7 linked regions of the Homo sapiens genome follow. The protein of the gene in region 7 purifies or fractionates together with the protein of the main gene of each other region. This does not show direct contact. Each region holds a gene or a part of one and is shown on either strand. Other genes may lie near its edges. The genes, in order: KIF1C, DCLK1, SIPA1L1, GIGYF2, NAV1, SRSF12 and NADK.

Region 1 (4,245 bases), on a different chromosome or scaffold from region 7:
TTTTTTCTTTTTTTTTTTTGAGATGGAGTTTCACTCTTGTTGGAGTGAAACTCTTGTTGGAGGCTGGAGTGCAATGGTGCGATCTCAGCTCACTGCAACCTCTCCTCCTGGGTTCAAGCAATTCTCCTGCCTCAGCCTCCTGAGTAGCTGGGATTACAGGCATGCACCACCACACCTGGCTAATTTTGTATTTTTAGTAGAGACGGGGTTTCTCCATGTTGGTCAGGCTGGTCTCCAACTCCTGACCTCAGGTGATCCACCCGCCTGACCTCAGGTGATCCGCCCGCCTTGGCCTCCCAAAGTGCTGGAATCACAGGCATGAGCCACTGTGCCTGGCCAGATGCCATTTATTAAAACTAAAAGAAGAGGGGGGGAAAAAGGCATTTAATTCTATTAATATTTTTAAAAGCAGATAATCTAAAGTCCTCTCTAAAGGGAATAGGGTTGGGCACAGTGGCTCACGCCTGTAATCCCAGCACTTTGGGAGGCCGAGGCAGGTGGACTGCTTGAGCTCAGGACTTTGAGACCAGCCTGGGCAACACAGTAAAACCCTGTCTGTACGAAAAGTACAAAAATTAGCCAGGTGTGGTGGCACAGGTCTGTAGTCCCAGCTACTCAGGAGGCTGAGGTGGGGGGATCACTTTAACCCGGGAGGTTGAGGCTACAGTGAACCATGATCATGCCACTGCACTCTAGCCTGGGTGACAGGGCAAGACCCTGTCTCAAAAAATAAAAATGAAAATGAAAATAAAAAAGGAGGGAATACGTGTTATGCAGGGAAAGTGGGGCTGGGTGAGAAGACTGCTCCAGCTTGGCCCAGGCAGCCTTACCCTGAACCCATGATAATCTGACAGTCTAGGGCAGAGCTCACAGCACAGCCCCTGGTGCCTGCCATCCTGTGTCTGAATCCAGTTCTGCCATTTTGTGTCATCTTTTGCAAATCACCTAACCCCCGAGAGCCTCAGTTCTCTCACCTGTGAGCTGTGTGAGAAAATGCGGACGCACAGAGTAGATGGTCAGTAAAAACCATTCTTCTACATCCATACCTGTCTGTGCTGCCCCCGTCCTCTCTGCCTGTTTCTGGCCAGGTCTTAAATCTGCTGTTAAGAACTGAGGCCCAGGCTGGGCGCGTGGCTCACGCCTATAATCCCAGCACTTTGGGAGGCCGAGGCGGGTGGATCATGAGGTCAGGAGATTGAGACCATCCTGGCTAACACGGCGAAACCCCGTCTCTACTAAAAATACAAAAAAATGAGCCGGGTGTGGTGGTGGGGGGGCGCCTGTAGTCCCAGCTACTCAGGAGACTGAGGCAGGAGAATGGCGTGAACCCGGGAGGCAGAGCTTGCAGTGAGCCGAGATCGCGCCACTGCACTCGAGCCTGGGCGACAGAGCGAGACTCCGTCTCAAAAAAAAAAAAAAAAAAAAAAAAGAACCAAGGCCCACAGGGACTAAACCATCACAATCCCCACCCTTGGCAACACAGAATCATTGGCTGCCTTTACTGTGACCTATGTCAGTCTTGCACACGGGTGTCATCTCTCCGCACTGTAGCTCCTTGCCCATGGGCTGGCTCTGCTGAGGTGTATTTTTGGTGGCCTGTATGGCTTTCATATCTCCCCCAGCAAATGGCTTGAGGTTGCCGCAGAACAGGAACTTGGCAATAACTCACTGGGCTGAACTGATTCAACAGCTTTCAACCCAAAATGCCGGAAGCATTTGCTGTCACTGAGGACTTGAACCAGACCAGAACAACTGCCTTGATTGGCTGACCCTGAACCATATGGAAACCGAAGAGGCATGTCTTTTTTTTTTTTTTTTTGAAACAGTCTCACTCTGTCACCCAGGCTGGAGTGCAGTGGCGCAATCTCAGCTCACTGAAACCTCCACTTCCCAGGTTCAAGCAATTCTCCTGTCTCAGCCTCCTAAGTAGCTGGGATTACAAGCGTTCGCCACCATGCCCAGCTAATTTTTTTGTACTTTTAGTAGAGACGGGGTTCCACCATGTTGGCCAGGCTGGTTTCAAACTCCTGACCTCAAGTGATCCACCCACCTCGGCCTCCCAAAGTGCTAAGATTACAGGCATGAGCCACCCCACCAGCCCCAAGAGGTATGTCTTAAACCTCACTGTAAGACGCACATGATAGCGTCTTTTGTTATTTTTTAAAATGTGCTGGCCGGGTGCGGTGGCTCACGCCTGTAATCCTGGCACTTTGGGAGGCCGAGGCAGGTGGATCACAAGGTCAGGAGTTCAAGACTAGCCTGACCAACATGGTGAAACCCTGTCTCTACTAAAAATACAAAAATTAGGGCTGGGTGTGGTGGCTCAAGCCTGTAATCCCAGCACCTTGGGAGGTCAAGGCAGGAGGATCACCTGAGGTTGGGAGTTGGAGAAACCCTGTTTCTACTAAAAATACAAAATTAGCCGGGTGTGGTGGCGCACACCTGTAGTCCCAGCTACTCGGGAGGCTGAGGCAGGAGAATTACTTGAACCCGGGAGGCAGAGGTTGCAGTGAGTCGAGATCGCACCACTGCACTCCAGCCTGGACGACACAGCGAGACTCCATCTCAAAAAAAAAAAAAAAGTGCTGACCATACACACCCCAGGTCCCTTGTCCCCTGGAAGGTGTTAGGCCAAGCACTCCTAGGTCTCTGAGGCACAACACACACACCAGGTCCAAGCTGACAGACAGCACATGTGTACCACGTCCTTCCTCCCTGCCCAACTCATTTTCACAGAGACTTTGCTTGAGCTTATGTGAACCCAAATCATTCTATTTTTTTTTAAGTGTTAGAACTAAAACAAACTGGTGGCCTCAAAAATACACCTCAGCAGGTGCAGTGGCTCACGCCTGTAATCCCAGTGCTTTGGGAGGCCAAGGTGGGCGGATCACATGAGATCAGGAGTTCAAGACCAGTCTGACCAACATGGTGAAACCCCGTCTCTACTAAAAATACAAAAATTAGCCTGGTGTGGTGGCGCGTGCCTGTAATCCCAGCTACTCGGGGTTGAGGCAAGAGAATCACTTGAACCTGGGAGGTGGGGGCTGCAGTGAGCCAAGATCATGCCACTGCACTCCAGCCTGGGGGAAACAGTGAGACTCCGTCTCAAATGATAAAAAAAAAAAAAAAAAAAAAAAAAAGCTGGGGGCAGTGGCTCACGCCTGTAATCCCAGCACTTCGGAAGGCCGAGGCAGGCGGATCACCTGAGGTCAGGAGTTCGAGACCAGCCTGACCAACATGGGAGAAACCCCGTCTCTACTAAAAACACAAAATTAGCCAGGCATGGTGGCACATGCTTGTAATCCCGGCTACTCGGGAGGCTGAGGCAGGAGAATTGCTTGAACCCGGGAGGTTGAGGCTGCAGTGAGCCCAGATCGCGCCATTGCACTCCAGCCTGGGCGACAAGAGCGAACACTCCGTCTCAAAAAAAAAAGAAAAAGAAAAAGAAAAAGAAAAAGAAATCTCGGCAGTCATAGCTGGATAGAGGCAGGTTTTCCACAGGGACAAGTTCCGATATTCAAATACAGGTTTTTGTTTAAAAAGGATCAGAGTGCTAGTTGTGGTGAACAAGATCAAGAAGGGCAGGATCTTCTCTTCAGCAAAATCCCACACTCTGGCTCACTAGTGTCCCATTTCTACCTTAGAACCCTCGCCAGTGCCTGACCACACAGTAGTCTGTCTTCTCAGGGTGGGTGCAGAGGGCTGGGCCTGTGGTATTCCTCCATTCATACCCATGAGCCCCAAGCCCCTCTGAGGACAAGGCCACATCCCCTCTTTATATGGCTGCACTCCCTGGTGCCCAACCCAGACCTCTGAGTTCAGTGTGTGGGGTGGAACATGGGGCCTCTCTCCCTGTCTGGCCTCTCTCACCCCCTCAGCCATTACCTTCTCCATCTGGCTGGGGGATGCTCCGGAACAGACAGTGTTGCTCCCGAATGAACTGTCCGGTCAGCTTGATGTCCATATCTACTTGGCCGACCCTGGGGAAGCAATGGCCAACGTTTGTGAGCATGTGCCAGACTTTAACCAAGCCCCTCCTGAACACCAGTTTATCCAACTCAATGAACCAAGCCAATTATTCCCATTTCACAGATGAGGAAGCAGAGGCTCAGGGAGGTGAAATGGCTTGCCCGGGTTCATTCAGTGGGCAGTGAAGTGATGCTGGGATCTGAGCCCAGGTCTGCCTGACTCTGAAGCCATGCTCTTAGTCACCATGTTATACAGCAGGCTCGCCAACTTCTCTTG
Region 2 (4,245 bases), on a different chromosome or scaffold from region 7:
GGCCGGGCACGGTGGCTCACGCCTGTAATCCCAGCACTTTGGGAGGCCGAGGCAGGCGGATCACGAGGTCAGGAGATCGAGACCATCCTGGCTAACAGGGTGAAACCCCGTCTCTACTCAAAATAAAAAAAAAAAATTACCTGGGTGTGGTGGTGGGCGCCTGTAGTCCCAGCTACTCAGGGGGCTGAGGCAGGAGAATGGCGTGAACCCGGGAGGCGGAGCTTGCAGTGAGCCGAGATCGCACCACTGCACTCCAGCCTGGGTGACAGAACAAGATTCCGTCTCAAAAAAAAAAAAAAAAAAAAATTGATTATATGTACAGCATGATTTGCTAGTCATTCAGAGTTTACCAGATTATACTTTTGAGCACACTATCTTTGCTGGAAGTTTAGTTTTTAATGTGGTGCTATCAAAATGCTTTTTTAAAAAATTTTTTTTGAGGGATAATTTGAATGATTTGTATGTATAGTAAATATTAAAATTAAAATGATCCATGAATTAAAAGATTGATCTTATTAAATAGAAGACTCCTCCAAGTTCTTAAAGGCTAGCGCATTCAAACTTTCTGAATTAGAAATAGATGCTAATCCTAGAAAGAGTATTAGTCATGAAAGAATACTTCCCTTAGGGATCCATTCAGATGCTCTAAATTATAAAATTCATTAGGAAAGAAGGAATATGTGCCAGTTGTTCATTTGTATTTACCATCTTTTGCTTGGCTTATAACCCTTGCCCTAAGTAATATGCGGATAAGGATTCTAATGGATGAGATTCTCTAATGAATGAGACTTAGTCTTCTATATTTAAGAGTCTGTAGCCTAAATGTCGTAAATCTATCAATGACCAGAAAGTTCATGCTGGCTTGTGAATTATAGTAGCAATAAGATGGCAAACTTCACCTTTACACATTTTGTAAGCCCTTCACTGGCTCCATTTCTAATGAGTTATTCAAACATCTTGTAGTTCTGAATTTTCATATATTGAATTTTCTCAAGATGGGAGTTCATCTATTTTCATAAATATTTACCTATTCAAATAAATATTTTTATAAAGTGTCTCATTAGAGCAAAGAATACATATGGATAAATGTTCCCTCTCCCTGCTGCACTTCAGAATTTTGGGAGTTCCAAAATGCTACTCTGAATCTAAAAATCGGCTTTAATGACTTTAGCTAAAATTTGCCATCAGCTGATTATTTAATTTTGTTTATTTCAGGAATAAATCCCTACAATAGGTATGATGTTCTCAGTTGTTTTCTTCCTTACTGAATTTGTCTAGAATTAATATTTGATAATGGCTAGTTTACTGTGGTTTACATGTAAATAATCCAAAGTCATGGGACGGAATCCGAGGTTTAATGTCAAAAAACCAGGATTCAAGTCTTGGCTCAGCCGTAGATTCCTTATGTTTTTAGCAAAACACTTAACTGAGCTTCATTATCCTCATCAGTGAAACACAGATAAAATGATTACCTGTGTTTTATAGAGTGCTGTGGGTCAACTATGATGATACATGCAATAGCAATTTTGAACTATAATGATGATAGCTTTATTGAGCATTGTTCAAAGTGCTTTGCATGTATTAGCATGCTTAATCCTCATAACAACTTGCTTATTATCCCCATTTAACAGATTAGAACACTAAGGCACAGAACTCGTTAAAAACATGCACAAGACCACACAGCTACGATTTAAACTGGTCTTGCTCCAGAGCTTGTGCTGGTAACCACTGTACCACTTTAGATTATGTTAAGGCACCAAACTGATGTAAATGTATTGAGAAAGAATTGTCAAGGGAGTAATTTGTCCAAAGAATATCATCTGAAACATTTCTGCTCTGTCCTTTTTTTCCCTGCAGTCATTCTGCTGACTGTTGTACTCAACTGTTGTTTTGTCAAGCGTTCAGTTTGCTGCTGTGGCATTTCCCCTAGTGTTGGCATGTTCTCTTCATAGCAGGATCAGTGAAAAGCTGCAGAGGAATTGGATGATAAAGTGGAAAGAACATAAAGACTTATTCGTTGGGTTCCCAGTGAGAACAAAGATGCTTCCTCATGGACCCCAGGAGTCTTTAGAATCTTTTTGGCTCAAAAGAGAAATCTGTCCCATAAGCAGTTTGTTAGAGTAGAATTTTTGACAACCCTGGCAGAGACTGAGGCTTGATAAGCCTCTGAGAATAAATCAGTTTCCTCCACGCTGTCCTGTGGAATAACGCTTGGCCATAGTGGGGTGGCACCTGCACTGCTACCATCTTGGCCTGCCTGTGGTGGCATCGGGGTCCATATGCTGCCAACAAGATGCCACCCTAAGATTACTTGTCCCACCTTTTTAAAAAATAGTTTAACTGAACCCTCACATCAACTCCATAAACAATATGGGAATTCCAGTGCCCAGTAAAGAATTTCATGTTTTTGGGTTGAGGAAATAGAATTGTTTAAAAAATGAATTGCTTGAGTGCTTTGAGTAAATGCGTAGAGAGGAAGATGGTTTTGTAGATTGCCTTGGGGCAGCCTACAGATGTATCCATGGCATGAAAACTGTTGACGCTGGGATTTTGGACAATGGAACCATGAAAGCCGGAGCCTGCTGTTTAATATCTTACCCAGAGGAGACGGACACCGGAGGGCACAGACCACATGCTGTTCTCACTTGTTTCTACCACCACTCCTTGCTCAGTTGCCTCTCGGGTTTGTGTTAGCCCTAAGCAAAGAGTTCATTGAACAGTACTTTTTTTGATGTTTTTAGACTGAGATAAGGAAATAAACGTTTTGGAAATGCTGCACAATCTAGAAAAGATTTTGCAGGAAGCTGCAATTGGCCAAGATGACCGTTGTGGTTCATAAGCAGCCTATGTGTGAGCAAACCCTTTCTAATGATTTCAACTCCATTCTTTATTCAGGGGCACTGAAGCTTCAGCAAATGGTTGCCCCGACCTTCCTCCTCTTCCTTGCAACTTTCAGGGTGACTGCTCACCAGGTCATCAGTCCTTTTGCTGGCATGGCTGGCAGTTCAAGGAAGCACTTACCATGCCTTAATTTCAGTGATGCATTTTTTTTTTTTTTAAATCTGGGCCTTGGTTAAAGACCTCCAAAGAAGAAAAAGGGACATTTTCTAGCTAACAGTTAAAATCATGTCCCCTGAACCCATGTCCAAGGGGAGGATCTGCAGGATCTTAGAGTCTGAGAGTCTCTTCCTCTTGCCCAAGTCCAAGCTCTGGATGTTGGAACTTTGCTGTGGGTTATTCACTTAACCTGCCAAGCAGTTACTCCCAGAGGCCATTTGGAGTATAACTATTTTTTAAGTGCTTAAAATAAGACTAAAAGTTACCAGATTTGCTACAAAGATACCCTTGCATATCTCCTGACTCCTTTTATGGAAAAGCAAATCTGGCTTTCTTGAGCTGCTAAATCTGTGGTTCTTGAATCCGTCCTTAGAAACATAGAACAGCTAGTGCCTAAGTAGGTGATTTATACTATAAAGAACATAGATAGGGCACTTCCCAATGATCCCCTTCCCACTGAAATACAGCAATGACAAACTGGATTGCTCTTTAAGTAGAAAATAAATGCACATCCCTATCTTATCTACTTTTCAACATCAAAGATCTGTACAACATTGCAGCATGCTTTAGTGAAGAGAAAAAAACCCAGAGATGTTATATTTTTATCTTATAGACATTTCACATAGGCCATGTACTTTATAAAATCTACCACTGCTAGTGAGTCGAGATCGCGCCACTGCACTCCAGCCTGGGCGACAGAGTGAGACCCCGTCTCAAAAAAAAAAAAAAAAAAAAAAAAAATCTACCACTGCTAGCATGCTAGAGTGAGCAAACAATTTATTGTTTTCCCAATATGGAAAACATTAGGAATTACTCAGCTGAAGTATGGGTAGCCATAAACTGATTTCGATGGTAAGCCATGAGAAAGCATCATAACTGCCATTTTGAGGACATCCCAGTAGCTGTTGATAAATTAATCCATCATTACATCTTCTCTGTATCTTTTGATCATGAATCCTCATTGCCTGTTATAAAGCTCAAAAGATGCTTGTAAATGAGTCAATAATTGCCGCCATTTATTTTAGGTGTTTAATATAGGAGTTTACTTGATTACAGGAAATGGTAATGATGATTAATAGGAATCTATTAATCAGATATCACAAAATGGTCTTTATTTTCTTCTTTTTGGCCTTTAATATCTAATTCTAATCTGAAGTAAAAATAATTTGGTCGACTCTTGGGTTTAGA
Region 3 (4,245 bases), on a different chromosome or scaffold from region 7:
AGGGCTTCACTGTGGAAACACAGTGTAAGATAATACCATTTTTCAACAACTACAGAATTAATGGATTTAAGCATTGATCATCAAAGGATGCAAATACTATAAAAAGAGACAAATATGTGCCTCATAATGGAAGAATACAACCTCACCTATGAATTATTTTTGCTACCCCCTAAAAAAAATTAAATCTGAATCTGATCAAGCTTCCAGAAAAGCCAATTTATAGGAAATACAAAAGACAGAGGAACATGTTTGTAGTTGACAAAATTCAGACCCTGAATAACTCTGCAGACACAATGCCCCATTTCTTCAACAAGTAAGTTGCAAGAAATAGTGAGGAAGTGGAGGGGAATCTACAGAATAAAACATTTTTTAAAGCTAAATTAATTGCAATGTGTGGATCCTATTTGGATCCCAATTTAGACAAAAAGACTATAAAGAAAATCCTAGGACATCCTAAACAATTGTAAATTGGAACATTGACACACTATTTGATGAAATAAAAGAGTTGTTATTCATTTTAAAACTAAAATAGTAATAAGTAGTCATAACAAGGACCCTGATTGTTCAAAACAAATATTAAACTGTGGTCAGTAGGTATGTTTAGGAAGGTAGAAATATGTGTTACTCCTCTCAGAGAGGTTTCCATACCCGGTAATTAAAATGTAATAACTGTTGAAAGGAATCTGTATGATATAGTACAAAAAGCACTTGGAATTAGACCAAATTGTTAAACAGTGCAGTGGGAAGTTGCTTGACATCCACTTAAAATCCTATTAAGTAAAATGTCTAGCATAGGCAGGGAGGAAGCGTGATGCATGTCCATTAAATGTCTGTGTTCATCCTCTTTCCTCTCTGTAAAAAAAAAAAAAAAAAAAAAAGAATTTGCAAGCTTCAGCTGAGAAGAAGAAAAATCCAAGTAGGTCAAGTGATAGAAATTTCTTTCAGAAGGTCTATTTCAAGCCTCAATTAATCAGCATCCCTATTGTCCACTGCAGCTGACCTTTCTAAGACAAGAATCTGATTATGTCATTTATTGTGCTTAAAAGCATTTAGAGGAAAGTTCAGACTTGCAAGCATAGCTTACTGCATGGGGGCTTCAGGTTTGGCCTCCTGTCTCTCAGTCTCATCTACCAGTCTGCACCCCATGCCTACCTCACTCCTTTGGAGCTACTCACCACTCCCCAGAACAGCATGCTCTGCCCCTCCGCTCTGCACATGCTGCTCCTCTCACACATTCCCCTTTCCCTCCATCTGATGAATTCCTGCTTTTCTTTTTTCTGAGAAGGCTCCCTGGACCTCCCAGGACTAAAGTGCCTTTCCTAAGTGCTACCAGTAGCACCCTGTACTTCGCAAGTAGGAGACTCAAATCACTGGCTGTGGCTCCCACCAGACTTTGAGTTTCTGGAGGGCTGAGCCCGGGACATCTTCAGCCTTGATCCTCAGCAAAGGCAAAGTGCCTAGCACATAGTAGGTACTCAGTGACTGGTGGATCAATACTATTAGAAATCGAGAGAATGATTGGCACGTGTTTGATCTTTCCTGTCCTTTGCCCAGATCTGCTTTCTTGGAAGCTGCCCTGGCCAGTAATCTGATTCAGGCTCCAAGAAGAGGAAACTTCCTTCTCCCATTTGATGTTTTCTGTATCACCTTCCTTTTAAATTTTGGGCTGGGGATTGTTGATTATTGCTGTTTTTCCATTGTGCTTCCAAAGTTCAAATGTCTTATATTTCTCAATTTTTATCCACTAAACTGTTCAGAAGTCTTTGAAACAGGCCGGGCGTGTTGGCTCATGCCTGTAATCCCAGCAATTTGGAAGGCTGAGGCAGGCGGATCATGAAGTCAGGAGATCGAGACCATCCTGGCTAACACAGTGAAACCCTGTCTCTACTAAAAATACAAAAAATTAGCCAGGCGAGATGGCGGGCCCCTGTAGTTCCAGCTTCTGGGGAGGCTGAGGCAGGAGAATTGCTTGAACCCAGGAGGCAGAGGTTGCAGTGAGCCGAGATCGCGCCACTGCACTCCAGCCTGGGCAACAGAGTGAGACTCCGTCTCAAAAAAAAAAAAAGTCTTTGGAACATTTTCATGTGTCAGCTTGAAGTTGGCTTTGGGTATCAACACTTGTTATTTCATTCAAGCTCTTTGATGCCAACCAATGTTACATGGCCCATATCGAGTAGAAATAGCCTCATCATCTCTTAGGCCATGTGACCCATGTGAATGGTCCCTTTTAGCAGGCACCTCAGGAGTAGGAGGTTTGAAAGCACTTCCTCAGAGGGAGTAAGTGTGGGCTTGTCGTGGAGCACTCTCTTGGCTGTCCAGAAGCTTACATTCCAATCCTGGCTCTCTCTAACAAATCTGGGTAAATCCTTTTACTTCTCTGTATCTGTTCCTGGAGAAGTGAAGAATTTGTACCAGCTGCTCAACCGGAGGTTCATGAAGATGTCAAACCACAGAATACAAACAAGACACCTTCCTGGTCGCTCAGTGTACCCAAAGATTTTGGAGTGAGAAGATATTTTTATATGAAAATGAACACAAATATTTTTCAGTAGAATGTAAAATCGAGGTGAATTTTCAAATGAAACCCAAAGATTTTACTGAAAGAATTTGAGGAACATTGAGTTCTGTTAAGTTCCCTTCCTGTGATAACTTTCCATCACTGTTTTAGCCTCTAGCTCTGTCTGTCTGTCATCTAGATAACCCTGCTGAGTAGAACATTCCAGTCCTCAACAATGCTGGGTAAATAAAGCATGGCTATGATTTTAAAGCATGTATTATTTCCAAGAAGACACAGAATTGCCAACTAGGCTAATATACATACAGCCAAGCAGAGGCCCTTTGGAATCTGCTTTTAAAAATACCAAGAACCGTTTATAATTAATATATCTTAAGTAACTACATGCAGCAAACTGAGATTCTAGAAAGGCTTTTTTTCTAAATATTCTGTTTAGCTTAAACCAGGCCTTATTATCAAGAGTTCAGAATTTGTGGCATCTAAATTAATGAGCTTTTAACCTTGTAGAAACCTTGCCAGTTTGATTTATCCAAAACAAAATCATTTATTTGAAAAGAGCATTCCAGGGTATCATCTTCCTCATCTTCTGTAAGGATTCTATTTCTGACTATGCGAAGCTGATTTCAGTGCCTGTATCATTTACCTCCCTACCACAGTGAATCATTGAAAATTATATGGTAAGGATTCAGTTCTTTTCCTCACAGTTCATTATAGCTGTTTCTAATTATTGGTAGGTTTTCAGTGTATGTTTGTCTAAAGTTCTATCAATTAATAAATGGATCTGCAGAAAGCCAGTTAGTTTAAGGGGCAAGTAGATGGAGGGTGCTTAAAATCACACCCCCTGCTAAACATTTTGCTCTCCTTATTTAAAATAAAATCACAGATATTTTCTGAGAAGGAATAACAATTTGAGTGAAATAGCAGATGAGAAGTTGCCAATTTTAAAGTGAAAGATATTAAATATTTCTGGATTCTTACAGGATTCCACTTAGAAAAATCTAGCAAACCTGGATTTCAGCATCTTTTGCTTGACTTTAAGAGAAAAATAACACGATCAAATTAAAATTATACAGCTGTCAGCGTTCAAGTCAGGCAGTTCACAATAGACAAGAAAAATTGCCTTCCTAATACATATTGGTATAATTAAGCCATATGGAAGTCTCTGAATTCTCTCCTCCAGTTAGAAAATGGAGTGTTGGTTGCCACTGTTCTTTGTCATGAAGTGAACTAGGTAGTCTTTTAAAAATACACTTGTAAAACCAACAGATAGGCCATCCCATGGCATCTTCTGAGCATGTAGCTTTTCCATTCCACCAGAAATATAATTTGCCTCCTGAGGTTGCTGATTTTTATTTTTCTTATTTTCACAAGAAATAACTATTTCTTGAAAAACAAAGCTGAATATCTTAAAGCAAACCCTTCCTAAAGAAAAAAAAGTGAAACAGAGCTCTTCAATTTTATTTGAAAGATGCATACTCTCTGATGATGCCATTTCTATTCCAAGAGTTCAGAAGAAACCGATTTTTTTATTGTTTCCCTAATACTAAGTATAATTGCATAATTTGTTCACTTTTAATTTGGAAAGAGCGATCTTCGATGTGTTAGAATCATTTCCAGTCATGTCAAACTTTACTAAAATCTTGGGAAATGATATAAAACACTCAACCTCTCTATTTCTATATCAACAACTTCCTTTGTTGTTTTAGGAGAAACTTACTTTTTTTCCTTTT
Region 4 (4,245 bases), on a different chromosome or scaffold from region 7:
ACTAATAAATTTCAACAAGAATGCTTGGTGAGACCTACTGGCCTCGTTCACCAAAAGATAGATAGGCATGTACGTTAACTCTTTAGAACAGATAAATCGAAACTGCAGAGCTATACACAGGACATTTTCCTAGAATGCTAGAAAAGGAAAAATGTCCAGAAGCTTCTCTGGGAGTCCACCTAGAATAGTCACCATTCTACCTTCTCTGAGACCTGCCCCCACCATTAGGAGTGGGACCTTTCAGCTAACTGTGCTTGCACTTCTAGACTCCAACCCTATGTCCATAACTAATGTGATCAATGACAAAGAACCGAACCAAGTTCAACCAGCCAAATTTCCCCCTCCCAAGAATATGAAATGTGAACACTGTGCTAGCATCAATTGGCTACTGGCACTAGAGCCTAAGTTCATATGTGGCTCCAAGAATTAAGTGGCCATTTGCTACCATGAGTTTGTGTTTGTTAAAGCAGAAAAGGCCAGACTGCACAAATACAATTAAAGCAGGACAAAAAGAGACAAGAGAGGACACTGGCCAGCTGGTAAAAAAGTGCTATCTACAAGTACTATGGCTCCTGAAAGCTTCCCAGTTTCTGGTTCATGTCCCTCATGAAGTCAACTGCTCTTTGGTTCTTTACAGTACTCCTGCCTCCAAAGCATTCCTCCTTGTTTCTTGCCAACAAAAAATTATTATGACAGTTTAAGACACAAATTCACACCAGGGTCAATGCAGAAAGGGTATGTTACTCTTACTGTTCATAAAGGATCTGACAGGCACCAGGGAAGAAGTTTCTTCTCACTACCCAAAACCTCAGGAGAAATAATAGGGCAAAAATAACTAAAACCTAAAAGCAGAAATTACCTATTTGCAAAAGCCCTCAGGCTTTGTGCTTCCCTTCCACACTTACCTGTTCAAAAATTCTGCTGGTTCACAGCAGGAGATTTGAGCAGACTTTGTTCAGATCCTTTTAACGCTGTAAATAATAAAAATATTAATATAAATCACCCAGCAACCTCTTAGGAAACTTTAAAAGTACAATCTTTCATCATAAATATACTTTGCAGAAAATGGCTTCCAAACCTGGTTAAAAGAGTAGATCACCTGGTGTATTTATAAACTAGGTTCCCTAACATCTAGAAAGTCTCAGTAGTTCTACAGTGGGACTGAAAACTATATTTTTTAACAAAAGTCCTAAGTGATTCTTATGAAGCTGTCAAATGAAGACCACCATGGGGTTTCAGGGAAGTCATTATTTGGGGTTTTCATTCAAAACCCCATTATAGGGACTTGGTATTAACTTTTAAAACCTACTGCCAGGCACAGTGGGTCATGCCTGTAATCCTAACACTTTGGAAGGCCAAGGAAGGTGATCGATTGAGCCCACGAATTCAAGACCAGCCTGGGCAACATGGCAAAACCCCACCTCTACAAAAATTAGCCAGGCATGGTGGCACATGCCTGTAGTCCCAGCTACTCGGGAAGCTGAGGTAGGAGGATCACCTGAGCCCAGGGAGGTCAAAGCTGCAGTGAGCTGCAACTGTACCACTGCACTCCAGCCTGGGTGACAGAGTGAGACCTTATCTCAAAAAATATATATCTAACAGAAAAACAAAAGCCGCATCACAGCAATATGCATCCTATGCAAATAATCACTGAGCCCTCAGAAATATGATCATTGCCAAAATGTCCAGGGAGCAAAGCTCCAAGTGTGCAAAATCACAACCTGCCTTTAATGCTCTGTTGGGGCAATATCTTAAAAATCCATAAGTTGGTGATATTCCAAGTGACAAGAGTGAATTGAAGTATAGTATCTTCAAATAGTTTCTTGGCTAAAATCAAATGATGCTTTACTGCTACTAACAAGTCAAAGAACAATAATTAACAATTAAAGTTGACAATTTCATTAACTACAGGAAAGCAACTAGATAGAGACAGATAGAGTTTTTTTTCTTTTTTTGGAGACAGAGTCTCGTTCTGTTGCCCAGGCTGGAGTGCAGTGGCACGATCTGGGCTCAAGGCAACCTCCGCCTCCCAGGTTCAAGCAAGTCTCCTGCCTCAGCCTCCCGAGAAGCTAGGATTACAAGTGTGCACCACCATGCCCAGCTAATTTTTGTATTTTTAGTAGACACAGGGTTTTGCCATGTTGGCCAGGCTGGTCTCAAATTCCTGACTTCAAGTGATCCACCCACCTCAGCCTCCCAGAGTGCTGGGATTACAGGCATGAGCCACTGCACCCGGCCAGTTATTTTCAAAATGGGATCTTGCTTTGTTCCCTCAGCTGGAGTGTAGTGGTACAATCAGAGCTCACTGTAGCCTTGACCTCCTGGGCTCAGCCTCCTGAGTAGCTGTGACTACAGGCGTGCACCACCATACTCAGCTAATTTTTTAAAAATCTTTTTTAGAGATGGGGGTCTCTCTCTGTTGCCCCGGCTGGTCTCATGGCTCAAGTGATCCTCCTACCTCAGCCTCCCAAAGTGCCGGGATTATAGGTGTAAACTACTGCACCCAGCCAAAGAAGAGTTTATTATCCATTTCTTCTTCCCTTTCCTCCTGCCCTTAAAAAATTACACAGTTCAGTGGGTAAAGTTGGATGACCTTTGGACATTATAACATGGCTACTTTTTTTGCAAAATTAAATCAGAAGTGGATGTGACTTTCTCAAATTGCATTCTTGGTGGGGCACAGTGGCTCATGCCTATAATCTCAACACTTTGGGAAGCTGAAGCGGGAGTATCACTTGAGACCAGAGGTTTAAGACCAGCCTAGGCAACATAGTGAGACCCCATCTCTACAAAAAATATTGGCCAGATGTGGTGGCATGGACCTATAATCCCAGTTACTTAGGAGGCTGAGGTGGGAGGATGGCTTGAGCCTGGGAGATTGAGGTTACAGTCAGTGGTGATTGCACCGCTGCCCTCCAGCCTAGGTGACAGAGCAAGACCCTGTCTTTTTTGGAGAAAGTCTTGCTCTATCACCTAGGCTGGAGCGCAGCGGTGCAATCACGGCTCACTGCAACCCCAAACCCCCAGGAGACAGGGTCTTGCTCTATCACAGGCTGTAGTGAGCCAAGATCAGGCCGCTGCACTGTAGCCTGAGCAACACAGTGAGATTCCATCTCAAATAATAATAATAATTAAGCTTAATGAAACCCCATAGTTAACAAGAAAATATAAAATTGTGTTCCTTATTTACTTAAAGTAGGGAAGTATGTAATACTTTGAAATACCTTTATAAAATGAAGTTTGGTCAATTAAGAGAACATTCTTTGTTTTTCAAACCTCTTTCTGCTTTCAACCTCACACAAAACTATAGGCAATTCAATAAAGGTATCACTTTACATTCCTACATAATTAATTTAGTATATTTCTCATTCATCTGAGAGCATGAATAAAATGTAAAAACAATATTTGGTCAAGAAACACTGCAATGCTAACTATAAGCAAGTTTATACATGAAATAAAAATCTCTAGTTTTAAAGAGATGTAATTTTTCAAAGTATTAAAAATGAATGGAAACTCTAGGACTTTTTTATCTTATTTTAAACTTCTATTTCTTTTTCATTTTATATATTTTTCCTTTTATTCTTAAATACTCTCCCATGCAAAAACCATAGGACTTTATCACCACAAAACCCTAGTGGGAATCAAGCAGTGAAAAAAAGCTTGAGTTCAGACTGTTACAACAATGACCAAACAATATGCCATGGTAATTTAAACTGAAGGAAAATGGACATTTAACTTGCCTCTAAGAGACCTGGGTTAACACCAACATAGGCTGTAGATTCAACCTAATGAGACTGGTCCCACTATAATCTATAAGAAATAGAATAAAACAGAAAGTATGGGAAATTTAATCAGCAGGAGCTAATGGAGAACTGCAAACAAAGTCAAAATTTGAAAATGGCACAAGTCAAAGATCCTACAGAAGGGCAATCATAAAAGCGACAGTAGTAATCTTTTTACCCAAAAAGGTTCTCCCAGATAGCAATCACTATCAACAGTGTCATCTTCCAATGTGAAGGTCAACAAAAAGAGAAGAGACAATATGGAGTATTAAAATGCAGAGTCATGAAAACAAATGAGCTGATATGACATCAAAGACATAATTTGGAAATGTCATTTCAAAAACACAATAGAAAAACAAGAGGAAGAAAGGCAATTAGTTAAAACACTACCTCATCACTACCATCACTATGCCTCCCTTTTAGCCAAGGAGTTGCATTCACACACTGACCTTGTAATTTCCAT
Region 5 (3,417 bases), about 200 Mb from region 7:
AGTGAGCACTGCCGGCCACAGATCCTGGGAAAGGTGGTAGTAACCCAGAAGATGTAGCCTTGAAGGGAGGATACCTATCAAAATGCCAAAGCTGCAGGGACACGAAGACGGTTGAAAATTCAACCTGTGTATACTAGATCCTTCCAGTTTGATGGTTTGGTCATTCTTCTTCATGATTATACCATGGAGAATTTTCTGTGACAAGGGTGGTCATGGAAGTAAGTGAGTGATCCCCTGGTTTCTCATTCCTTAAAGCAGTGGTTCGCAAAGTATGGCACAAGACCAGCAGCATCAGCAGCCTTTGGGAACTTGTTAGAAACGAAAATTCTCAATCCCATCCCAGATCTGCTGAATCAGAAACTCTAATGAGAGGACCCGGCAATCCACGTTTTAATAAGCCCTCCTGGTGATTCTGATGCACACTAAATTCAACTGTTTTAAAGGGAAAGCCCTTTATAGTATTGGAGTTCCCACACTGAGAGGCTTTGGGGCCCAAAATAAGAAGGTTCTAGGTTGTCATTCAGACTTTAACATTAATTTCAAAGTCACCTTTCTCATGCTTCCTTGTGTTTCTGTTTTTCCATTTATGATTTTAACAAAGAAAGGTATGTGTGCTTTTGGGTGGAAGTTAGGAGAATGTTTGTGTCTTTCCTAGTTGAATACAACCTTCAGAGAAAAACCTTATGCCTTGGAAATTACTACCTGGCACACAAAGGGGCTTCAACAAGGAAAAGCAGTTGGAGGTCTCTTCCAGATTGCTCTTCTGCCGAATTATTTGTATCTATTCCGAGCTGATTATGTAATAGGATGGAAAAAGTAAAAAAAAAAAAAAAAATCTAATTTGTATTTCCATGACAACGTGTTCTCCCAGCAACATCCCTCTCCTTTATTTGAGTTATAAAGGGCACTGCTGGGCCTGAGAACCAGGCCAGAACCTCCTTCTGTATGGCAGCTAACAGTGTAGGGCTCCAGTATCCCAGGAAGGCCCCTTATCCACACTCCACTCAGCTCATAGGAGAGTCTTGCATAATGAAGACACAGACCTGGGCACTTCAGTCCTTGTGCTCCTCCTCTCTTTTCCCCACAGCAGGACCTGGATACAGAAGTACTCAGCCAAGGTGACAGAATAAAATCCTTTTTTTGTTGTTTTCTGTTTGTTTGTTTGTTTTGGAGAAGGAGTCTCGCTTTGTCACCCAGGCTGGTGTGCAGTGGCACGATCTCGGCTCACTGCAACCTCCGCCTCCCAGGTTCAAGCGATTCTCCTGTCTCAGCCTCCTGAGTAGCTGGGATTACAGACGTGCGCCATCACGCCCAGCTAATTTTTGTATTTTTAGTAGATACGGAGTTTTGCCTTGTTGGCCAGGCTGTGCTGGAGCTCCTGACCTCAGGTGATTCACCTGCCACAGCCTCCCAAAGTGCTGGGATTACAGGCGTGAGCCACAGCACCCTGCCAAATAAGATCCTTTTTAAAAAATATCTGAAAAAAGCTTCATATCTTTACAAACTCATAAAATAGCTGATTGGGCCATGGAGGAGATGAGGCTGTTTAGAACTGGTTTTGTTTCAAGTTTGTCAATTTTCCCTGTATGAGAACTTGGGTAAAGCACAAAGAAACATACAGTGCTAGTAACAGGTCTCCTGCGCCCTGGAACTAAGTGTTTGGAGGAAGGACTAAACCCCGGGGGAGGTGAGTATAAAATAATTCCACTAAGATCACCTCCTCAGTCCCCAGAAGGCTGATGGTGGATCCTCTGGCCATCTCCTGTGGGGTCTTACTGCTCCTCTGCCATTTCTCTATGCCTGAAGACACGAAGATGATATCAAGGCAGAGCTACCATATCGCAGCCAGTCTCTAGGCTACTGCTGTGCAGTGGCTCCCACTTTCTAATGCTTTTTTGTTTTTGCTTTTTCTAACAAAACAATCTTTTTTCAAAATGAATTCCAACCCCTGCTAGCTTCCTTCCCCGCCTCCATACTGTTTTAGGCAGCACCGTTTATGTGACAGAGTCCGTGTTTCTCAAATGCATGGTGTTCCTCAGGTGGAGAGTGGGCAGAAGTTTTTGCAACACTTTTTTTTTAAGTTATTGGGTGCAAAATCCCAAACCAGGATATGTGTATGTCTGTGTGTTTATGTTTTTTATTTGACCCTCCCCTCTTTCAACCTACCCCCTTTTATATCTAATGTAGAAAAAGCGAAATTGAATCTGGAAAGCAAACTGTTGTATATAGTTGCGGTAACAATCATGAAGAGAGAGCCGGGCTGTCCCCTCAGTAATTCATTTTAAATAACAAATTATTTAAAAATAAAATTCATGCCAGAGCCAGCTGAAGAGGCCTTCCTTCATCACCACTGAGGCCACCCCCAATCTGGGCCCTCTGTCCATCTGGCATGTCTCCTCCCAGCAAGATTCATCTGTTCAATGCCATTTGCGTTTCAATAAAGTTATCTCCTGTACTGTCCACTGGTTCTCTAGCTCCCTCTCTGCCTGGTTTCTGTCTCCATTTATCTTGTGGCCCATTCCTTGATTGGCAAGGCCAGACTGCTTGTGGTCATTTGCCTAACCCAGAAGTAACCTGAAACCCTAAGCTAGAGTCTCCTGACTCCCATGGTTGGGGGTGGGAGGAACCCCTGCTCGCACATTATGGACATAGAATCCTTCACCGGATCTCAAAACATCCAGCCCAAACATCAAGGCTCCGGAGTCCTCCATCTGGGTTGCTGCAGTGTTTGAAAACATACCACCCTCTTGACTTTGCTAAATTTTCTTCTTGGGGTAAAAGTGAACTGACCTATTAGAAGCTGTTGTAATCAAGTTCAACTTCTTTTGGCCACTTCAAGAAAGTAAATAGGCTTACTATTCCCCATTGCAAAATTGAAGGGTCCAAGAAGCAATCTTTTCCCTATGAAATTGTAGTAACATAACTCATCTCTGCCCTCTTAACATGGGAGGTGACAAGTGTGTTGAGAACTCTCTTCAAGCCAGTTGCAGTGGGTGTACCTGTAGTTCTAGCTACTCTGGATGCTGAGGTGGGAGGATCACCTGTCCAGCCTGGGCAACATAGCAAGACCCCCCCAACTCAAAAATAAATAATTGAGAAAGCTTTCTTTTGAAGTAATCTTCTGATGAGATGACTTAATCCCTGATTGTTACCAGTCCAGCATCCACAGTCTTGGAAGTGACCTAGGATTTGGTAACTCGTTTCCTTTGCCATGTGAGAATGAACTCACTTGATAAGGGTTCCTGGGAACCATTTTGAAGGCACATAACCTGAACAGCTCACTAAAAAATACCTGTTTCTGTTTGCTCTAGAACCTCCCATTCCAACAACATTCTATCCTTTCTGCCACTACATGCTTGCCACTCTGCCCTGCATTTTTTTTAATTTTTATTTTTTTTTATAGACAGAGTCTGTATA
Region 6 (4,245 bases), on a different chromosome or scaffold from region 7:
GGCTGAGTCATGAGAATCTCTTGAACCGGGGAGGAGGAGGTTGCAGTGAGCCGAGATCACGCCCTTGCACTCCAGCCTGGGCAACAGAGTGAGGCTCGGTCTCAAAATAAATAGTTTTAAAATTTGTGTTATGTTTCTTTTCACTGGTGAAACAAGATGTAGCTTAGGAAAAATAATATCTTTGCTTTTGTACTGCATAAAGGAATAATTTTTTAATGTTAAATATAGTGTATTAATGGAACTCCAGTCTAGGTGACAGAGTGAGACCTGAGACCCTGTCTCCAAAAACAAAAACACAACAAAACGTGTGAGCAAACTAGGAATAGAAGAGAACTTCTTAACCTAATAAATGTCAGCTATAAAAAACATAGCTAACATCATACTTAATGATGAAAGACAATGCTTTCCTTATAAAATCAGGAAAAAGAAAAGATTGCCACTCACAACCGCCAACGTTTTATTGCAGGTCCTAACCAGTGCAACAAGGCAAGAAAAAAGATATAAAATACAAAAATTGGAAAGATAAAAGTAACCATTCTTAGGTGACATATTTGCTTACATAGAAAATACTAGGGAATGAACAAAAAAACTGCTAGAACTAATAAGTTTAGTAAGTTATGAGGATATAAGGTAAATTTACAAAAACTTTATTTCTATATATTAACAGCAAACAATTGAAAACAATGACAATTTTAAAAAACAGTTGCATTTACCATAGCATCAAAAGGCATACTTACTTAGGAAAACAGTTAACAAAAAATGTGCAGAACCTTTGCACCAAAAACTACAACATATTTTCAAGAGGAATTTTAAAAGCTAGCATAACAAAACCCCATCTCTACTAATAATAGAATAAACAAGGTGTGCTGGCACATGCCTGTAATCCCAGCTACTTGGGAGGTTGAGGCACGAGAATAGCTTGAACCTGGGAAGTGGAGGCTGCAGTGACCCGAGATTGTGCCACAGTACTCCAGTCTGGGTGACAAAGCAAGATTCCATCTCCAAAAAAAAAAAAAAAAGACAAGTCTCACCCTGTCTTCCCAGACTGGAGTGCAGTAGCATGATCATAGCTCAGTGCAGTCTCAAACTCCTGGGCTCAAGTGATTCTTCTTCCTCAGCCTCCTAAGTAGCTGGGATTATAGACACCACGCCCAGCTAATTTTTTTTTATTTTTTGTAGAGATGGGGGTCTCACTATGTTGCTCAGGCTGATCTTGAACTCCTGGGCTCAAGTAGTCCTCCCACCTTGGCCTCCCAAACTGCTGGTATTGCAGGTATCAGCCACCATGCCTGGGCAACAGTGGGAATTCTAACACATGTTTTTGGAAATGTAAGTTGGTTGGGCCACTCTGAAGAACATGTAGTGAAGCTAAGGTAGGCATACCCTCCAGCCTACCAATTTCTTTGCTAGTGATACTGAAGCAGGAGAATAGGGTCTGGAGGCAGGGAACCTAAGGCCGATTCACAGTGACTTCCTAGAACTGAATCAAAAGGAGAACTCCACCTCTCTACACCCAAGTAACAAAAGGATCAGAGGCTACTCCCTTTGCACTGTATTACAGATAAAAAATGGAAAGTACCTCTGACTGGTCCCCTCCTACAACCAATCAGACTGGTCCCAGGCCAAGTCTTCATGTGTAACTTTGTAGCTTTGCTTCAGCCTCTAATTGGTCGCCTCCCTCCACCAGACTGGTGGTGGGCCAAGTCTTCATTTACATAGGGTGTAACCGAGTAACCAGTGGGAAACCTTAGAGGGTATTTAAACCCTAGAAAATTCTGTAACCAATGCACTTGAGTGGCTTGCTTGAGCCTGCTCCCACTCTGTGGAGTATCTTTTCATTTCAATAAATCTGTGCTTTCATTGCTTCATTTTTTCATTGCTTTGTGCATTTTGTCCAATTCTTTGTTAAAAATGCCAAGAACCTGGAGGACTCATAGGCAAGACCCTCCATTGGTAACAGAAGGATATAATATTTCTTTAAAAATACTGAAAATTATGGCAAGTATGTCAAATACGGAGAAAATAATTTTTTTTTTTTGAGACAGAGTCTTGCTCTGTTGCCCAGGCTGGAGTGCAGTGGCATGATCTTGGCTCACTGCAAGCTCCGCCTCCTGGGTTCACACCATTCTCCTGCCTCAGCCTCCTGAGTAGCTGGGACTACAGGCGCCCGCCACCACGCCCAGTTAATTTTTTGTATTTTTAGTAGAGATGGGGTTTCACCCTCTTAGCCAAGATGGTCTCGATCTCCTGACCTCGTAATCCGCCCACCTCGGCCTCCCAAAGTGCTGGGATTACAAGCGTGAGCCACCGCGCCCGGCCAGAAAATAAATCTTGTTGGTAGATACATGGGTGTTTATTATTCTCTGTACTTTTTTGAATATTGAAGTAGATCATACCAAAAGTGCAAAAATAAAACAACAGCTAACAGGTGAGGGAGTGGAGACAGTGAATGGGAATTGGCTCTTTTGAAAAGACCTGTTCCATCTGACTCCCATCACCCTTGGCTTCCAGACTCCAGACCTCTGTGGCACACAGTGCTGCAGCCTCCTCTTTTATATTATCTATGATCCCTTTCCTCTTAGCCACTACATTTGGTTGATGGGATTGGTTGTCTCAGAAGACCTTCATTTGAATCCTAGCTCTACTACTGGCTGTGTAGATCTCTGGGCAAGGTAACTTCTCTCACCCTCAGTCTCCTTAACTCTTAAATGGTAACAGTAATGTATTCTTTTTTCATTGATAGGCAAATATATATTGAGTACCTACTGTGTGCCCAGCAGCTACATTAGGTACAGAGATATGCTGGTGAAGACACCTGCTTTAGCAGTGATTCTTAACCTTCAGTCTCAGAATTGCCTGTGAAGTCCTGAAAAAATTAAACATAACTGGGCCTCACTATGGAAAACACTAATTAGGTCCAGAATTAATGCATCGGGTTGGGGTGCCTCTGTCTGTAACATCCCTTCACAGATGATTACAGTACTCAGGAGAGGTTGAGAATCTTTATGCCAGTCTATGGTCTGTGGGAGCAGGAATTGTGTTTTTCTTGTTTCTCATTATATTCCTAGAGCCTGGCACATGGTAGGTGCTCAATAAGTATTTGCTTAATTCTGAATAAGTAAAAGAAAAAAGACATTGTCACTGTCCTCAGAAACTAATAGTAAAACATGTTCTATGAGTGTTAAATGAAATAAAGTATGTCATAATGTTGACTGAGCTACTGGCAAAAAGTAGATGCTTAGTCAATTTTTGTTGAATCTTATATGTAATTTCTAAATCCCCATCTCTAGCCTTAGTCACTGGCTTCTAATAATTATATTAATACACACTAATTAATATGCATATAATCACAATTTTCTGTTGCTTATAGAACTCTTATCAGTGTTCTACCATCACCTCAAATACTGCATTTCTAAACCTGAAAGTTGCTTCTTTTGCCTCTTTTCTTCCTCCTTGATCTAGCTCTCTTCTAATTTTTGTCACTGACACCATCTTTTTTCCATTTGTCCAAGCTAGAAGCTTCTTAGTCATCTTTGAATCTTTATTTCTCCCGAGCCACATTTTATGATCATAGCTTGATGCTGAATCCCTATGATAGCACCATGAAGCAGTAGGGTGTAGTGGTTAAGATGGACCAGTATGAGACTGAAAATTTGATTTCTAGCTTTGTCACTTGCTGGCTCAGTGAGCTTAGATAGGTTACTCTGTCTGTATCACCTGTAATCTGCCTGTATTACCTGTAAATAACCTGAAATTCTGTCTGTATCACCCATAATCTGTCTGTATCATCTGTAAATAACCACAGGGAAATTGTAAGAATTAAGTGGTTGTAAGGTGAACACTGGCTAACATATAAATGCACTGTAACTGTTAGCTATTATTGCTAAATATTTTGTCTCTTCAGTTAAATTGTAGCTCCATGAAGATGAATATCATGCTGTTTCTTTTTTTTGGTACCCCTTCTGAAGCACCTAATCGCACTAGAAGGCACATAAGCAGGCTCGAAATACCTGTCAGATTTGGGAATACAGTAGTTACTTTGTTTTATGTTTAATATTAAAACATCCATTTTTCTTTAAAGCCTGATAAATAATTTTAGGACTTCTTTAGAATCTAATTCTTGCTATCTGAAAACAAGATTAACATAAACATGAAATTAAAGTGAAGCAAAATGAATGTGTTCTTAGTGAAACAATTACTTATTAGGTCTTATAATAACTTTCAGAGGTGGATATGCTGGGTCAG
Region 7 (4,245 bases):
GCAACAGTGATCGATCTGATATCTGTGTTTTATGTGTAAAGAATTATAATCCAGGCTGGGCGCAGTGGCTCACACCTGCAGTCCCAGCACTGTGGGAGTCCGAAGCAGGCAGATCACTTGGGCCCAGGAGTTTGAGACCAGCCCGGGCAACATGGTGAAAGCCCATCCCTACAAAAAACACAAAAATTGGTCAGCTGCGGTGGCTCACACCTGTAATCCCAGCACTTTGGGAGGCCAAGGGGGGCGGATCACGAGGTCAGGAGTTCAAGACCAGCCTGGCCAATATGGTGAAACCCCATCTCTACTAAAAGTACAAAAATTAGCCAAGCATGGTGGCGCGTGCCTATAATCCCAGCTACTTGGGAGGCTGAGACAGAGAACTGCTTGAACCCGGGAGGCAGATGTTGCAGTAAGCCGAAGATCGCACCATTGCACTCCAGCCTGGGCGACAGAGCAAGACTCAGACTCAGAAAAATACAAAAATTAGCAGGCATCGTTGCACACACCTGTAGTCCCAGTTGCCAAGGAGGCTGGGGCGGGAGGATCACCTGAACCTGGGAGGTTGAGATTGCAGGGAGCTGTGATTATCAAAGTGCATTCCGCCTGGGCGACAGAGCAAGACTGTCTCCAGAGAAAAAAGTGAGCTCCCAGCCAGCCCTGAGAGTCGTATTCTGCACCTGGTAGACATCCTCATTGCCTCTTCCCCAGAGAAGCCTTTGCTTCTGGGACTGGTGCCTCAGCTCTCAGGCCTCTGTGCAGAACGGGCTCTCTTCCTCTGTGCAGAACGGGCTCTCTTCAGGGCCTCCTCCTTCACGGAGTCATGGATGCTTCACTTTCTGCAAGGGAGGACCATGCGGAAGGGCCGAGTGTTCCAGCGCGCAGGCTGCTGGGGACTGTTGACCAGAAAGCGCAATGCGGCCGTGTGATACGGGGGCGGCCACTGCATGGCCCTTTGCTGACAGGCACCGGTGCCATGGAGGCTGGGGGCGCACAGCAGGGACGGAGGCCCCAGCCCTGGGCTGTCACCGAAGTTCAGGTCCCAGGAGCCACGGGGGAGTCATCCGAGGAGCTGCTCTGCAAAGTGTGGGCCCCGCGGCAGCGTGCGTCCCAGGCAGGACGGGGGTTGGCCTTGCTGCTCCAGACGCTGACGGAGCCCCTTAGGATGGAAGTGACTCGCACTTGTGCTTTTGAGGCCCAGCCCTTTCAGTGCCACTGGTTCCCGGAGTGTCTGTGACCTGTCACTGCTGCCAAATGCCTGAGGCGGGGGGCCCGACCCCTGTTTGCTTTCCCTCATCCAGTCCATCTGCAGATTCTGTCACTTTGATCCCAAAATATCCAAGCAGCTCCCCTGCACTATTGCCCGGCTGCCCTCCGCTGTGTGGACTCCTGACCACTCGCCGCGGCCTCACCATCCCTTCCCTGCACAGCAGCCACGTGGGTGACCCAGAGTGCTCCACTGCCCTCCCGGCCCCGCCGTGGCTCTGTCCCGCCATCCTGTGCTTGCTGTGTCCCTGGCACCCCACCGGGCCTCTCCCCCGCTGCCTGGTGCCCTCCCTGCACTTCCTGGTCCTGGCAGAGCCACTCCTTTGTCACTCGCATCTCAGCTGCTGCCTTCACCAGCCGTCAGTCACTCGGGCCAGGGCGGGGTCACCGGACAGGTGCATGTTCTGCCTCAGCCCTCAGACCAGGGCGTACTCAGTGGTCCCCGAGCTGCCCGAGGCCAGACAGCCCCGCAGGAGGAAGCGGTGGGTTTGTGGGGCAGCCTTGAGGGGCATGCAGCTTTCTCGGCACCCCCATGGGAGCACGCCCCCTCTGGGCTCTGTGTCTCTGGGATCATAACCTCCCGCTTCCCATCCCCGCTGTGGAGGGGCAGGGCTTCCCATGCATCTGAACTTCCGTCTTCCCTGATAGTCCAGAGCAAGACCCTGTGGGGGCGCCTGGTGAGGAGGGCACCCGCTTCCTGTTTTGTTGTCCAGGGAATTGGTGGGCCTGTGTTGTGGAGGTGCGTGAGTGCCCGTGTGTCACAGTGTGCGTGGCCACCCATGTGTGAGACAGTCTCAGTAGGAGCTGGCCAGGCGGGCCAGGCTGTGGCCATGCTGGCTTCACGCCACCCCCTGCCCTCTCCGTGCAGTACCCACAGCCGTGTGTGCCTGCAAGCTTCACGCCACCCCCTGCCCTCTCCGTGCAGTACCCACAGCCGTGCGTGCCTGCAAGGGCTGGTGTCCTGCTTTGCAGGTGACCCAGGAAGAGGTCGAGGCGCTGGTTTGTGGTCACACACAGCGGTGGGTGCCTGGGCCGGTGTACGACGCCGCTGCTGGTGGCTCTGGCTGGGCTCAGCTGAGCCTCAGGGCTGGAATGGGTGTAGGCCAGGCCACTGGGTCAGTGGTGACTGTTGGCGGGGAGAGCAGGGGGAGCCGTGTGCAGGGCGGGGGCTTTGCTGGCTGACCAGGCCGGAGGACCGTGAGCCACCTGCACGCCCTTGGGCCGGAGCCAAGCAGAGTGACGCAGCGGGCTAGGAGGCAGGGAACGCCCTTCCACCTGACTGTGGCCTGAGGGTGCCTTCCCTGGGGCCCAGCCGGTTCCGCGGGCCAGAGCGGTGGCTGGCGCAGTGCTGGGGCGAGGCTGGAGGCTGGGTACTTGGCCAGGTCTGAGGCCACGGGAACAGAGGGCTTGGTCCCACCCGGCTCAGTTAGGAGCAGGGAGCTGAAGTGTGGCCTCTTTGCTGCTGAACTGAGGACTTTTTTTCAGAAGGGATTAGGCAGGAGGACCATGTGACCAATGAGGAAACTGTTTTGTTTTGTTTGATTTTTATAAGTGTAGGAAGCTCTTTTGACTTAGTTGCTTTTACAACAACTTTACCAAGTCTCATCACAATTGTGTTTTGCTTTGAGTTTTGAGTATGAAGAGCTTAGGCTTCTAGTGTGGGCGCACAGTCAGGACCATACCGATGGGGCGGCCGCGTGTTCGCCAAGCGTGGCCTGGATGCTGTGGACACACTGGCCGGCTCCCAGCAGGCAGGGGCTACCTCGCGAGCCACATGTGTGACCCGGCAGGTGCTGAGCTCATAGGGGATGGCATGAGTGACCCCACGCCTCCCAGTAATGCCTGCACAGGGTGAGTGCTGACCAGCTTCCGAAGGTCACAAGCGATGGGCTAAGGTCTGTGGCCCTGTGGCTGCCATCGGCGTCTGTGTTGTGGTTCTGGGGGTGTTAGTGGGACGGTCACACTCCTGGGGAAGTCACTGCTGGGAAGAGGCATGGCAGGCAGCAGCTTTCTCGATTGGGCAACTTGGAACTAGCTGGCTGGCGCGGTGGTATAAGAACTTGTCCTTTGGGGCTGAGGATAGGCGGTGAGCGCTGACGACGGTGGCCAGCCCCGCTGCGCCCTCCCTTGGCTTCTGGGAACAGGAGCAGGCTCCGTGGTGTGTGTTCCCGGTTCTGGGCTGGGATGTTTTCTGTGACTAACGTGGTAATGGGAATCCCACCGGGGTGGGCCCTGCCTGTGGAGAAACACCGGGCACAGTGGTCGGGGTCAGAGCCAGCAAAGCGCGGGTGGCTGTGTCAGGGCTGCCACGGACTTTTAAACCTGTGATTTTTACTGTGAGAGTGAGTGAGGTTAAAGTCCGTTCATGCAGGGAGGTAGTGAGCTGTGTGCAGGGGGGGAAGCGGGTCCTTGAGGGGTCCTGGGCTCCCGTGGGGCCAGAAACTGTGTGCAGAGGATCCTAGGGACAGAGTCACCATGTCAACTGGTTTGGGTTTTCGTGGGGGCCTGAGGAGGGCATCAAGCAAAGAGTGGCCCAGCCATGGGCTTTCGTGGTCATTTCTGCCCCACCAGCGTCACTGAGGAGCCAGGCAGGCAAGTGGCCGGGGGCTGGGAAGGGCTGTGGTGCGTGCACTTGGGTCAGCGTGGTGCCCGGGTGGGGGTTGTGGGCCTGAGCCTGCGTGTGATGGGCCAAGCAGGTGAGAGGTGGTCACTCCGGACCCTACTGACCCCTGACCCTGTCTCTGTGGCGCGACCCTAGGCCCTGTGAGCCCGTGGCCACCGAGCACGTTTCCCTGGGAGGTGAAAACACCTTTTTAAAGATTTTTTTTTTTATTTTCTAAGTCATACACCTTTTCCGCAAGAGGGAGATCGCAGCTGGTGTGAACTCTTTTCTCCTCCCCTAAAGGCACATTCAGGACCCCGCGAGCCAGCGGCTGACGTGGAACAAGTCCCCAAAGAGCGTCCTTGTCATCAAGAAGATGA

The links.
Region 1: the proteins of NADK (region 7) and KIF1C purify together in Homo sapiens (affinity purification with mass spectrometry, with the first as the bait; one large-scale study listed by BioGRID). This does not show direct contact.
Region 2: the proteins of NADK (region 7) and DCLK1 purify together in Homo sapiens (affinity purification with mass spectrometry, with the first as the bait; one large-scale study listed by BioGRID). This does not show direct contact.
Region 3: the proteins of NADK (region 7) and SIPA1L1 purify together in Homo sapiens (affinity purification with mass spectrometry, with the first as the bait; one large-scale study listed by BioGRID). This does not show direct contact.
Region 4: the proteins of NADK (region 7) and GIGYF2 purify together in Homo sapiens (affinity purification with mass spectrometry, with the first as the bait; one large-scale study listed by BioGRID). This does not show direct contact.
Region 5: the proteins of NADK (region 7) and NAV1 purify together in Homo sapiens (affinity purification with mass spectrometry, with the first as the bait; one large-scale study listed by BioGRID). This does not show direct contact.
Region 6: the proteins of NADK (region 7) and SRSF12 purify together in Homo sapiens (affinity purification with mass spectrometry, with the first as the bait; one large-scale study listed by BioGRID). This does not show direct contact.

The regions. Positions count from the first base shown.
Region 1 is NC_000017.11:5,014,478-5,018,722, reverse strand, and holds part of KIF1C (kinesin-like protein KIF1C), read right to left. Parts: intron 3,981-4,245; coding exon 3,886-3,980; intron 1-3,885. UniProt on the Homo sapiens protein: Motor required for the retrograde transport of Golgi vesicles to the endoplasmic reticulum. Has a microtubule plus end-directed motility.
Region 2 is NC_000013.11:36,106,889-36,111,133, reverse strand, and holds part of DCLK1 (serine/threonine-protein kinase DCLK1), read left to right. Parts: intron 1-4,245.
Region 3 is NC_000014.9:71,666,013-71,670,257, forward strand, and holds part of SIPA1L1 (signal-induced proliferation-associated 1-like protein 1), read left to right. Parts: intron 1-4,245.
Region 4 is NC_000002.12:232,700,150-232,704,394, reverse strand, and holds part of GIGYF2 (GRB10-interacting GYF protein 2), read right to left. Parts: intron 3,811-4,245; exon of another isoform or gene 3,741-3,810; intron 972-3,740; 5' UTR 906-971; intron 1-905. UniProt on the Homo sapiens protein: Key component of the 4EHP-GYF2 complex, a multiprotein complex that acts as a repressor of translation initiation. In the 4EHP-GYF2 complex, acts as a factor that bridges EIF4E2 to ZFP36/TTP, linking translation repression with mRNA decay.
Region 5 is NC_000001.11:201,824,510-201,827,926, forward strand, and holds the end of NAV1 (neuron navigator 1), read left to right. Parts: 3' UTR 1-2,460; downstream 2,461-3,417. UniProt on the Homo sapiens protein: May be involved in neuronal migration.
Region 6 is NC_000006.12:89,107,884-89,112,128, reverse strand, and holds part of SRSF12 (serine/arginine-rich splicing factor 12), read left to right. Parts: intron 1-4,245. UniProt on the Homo sapiens protein: Splicing factor that seems to antagonize SR proteins in pre-mRNA splicing regulation.
Region 7 is NC_000001.11:1,757,234-1,761,478, reverse strand, and holds part of NADK (NAD kinase), read left to right. Parts: intron 1-1,576; coding exon of another isoform or gene 1,577-1,745; intron 1,746-2,235; coding exon of another isoform or gene 2,236-2,378; intron 2,379-2,836; exon of another isoform or gene 2,837-2,947; coding exon of another isoform or gene 2,948-3,114; intron 3,115-3,344; exon of another isoform or gene 3,345-3,421; intron 3,422-4,168; coding exon 4,169-4,245.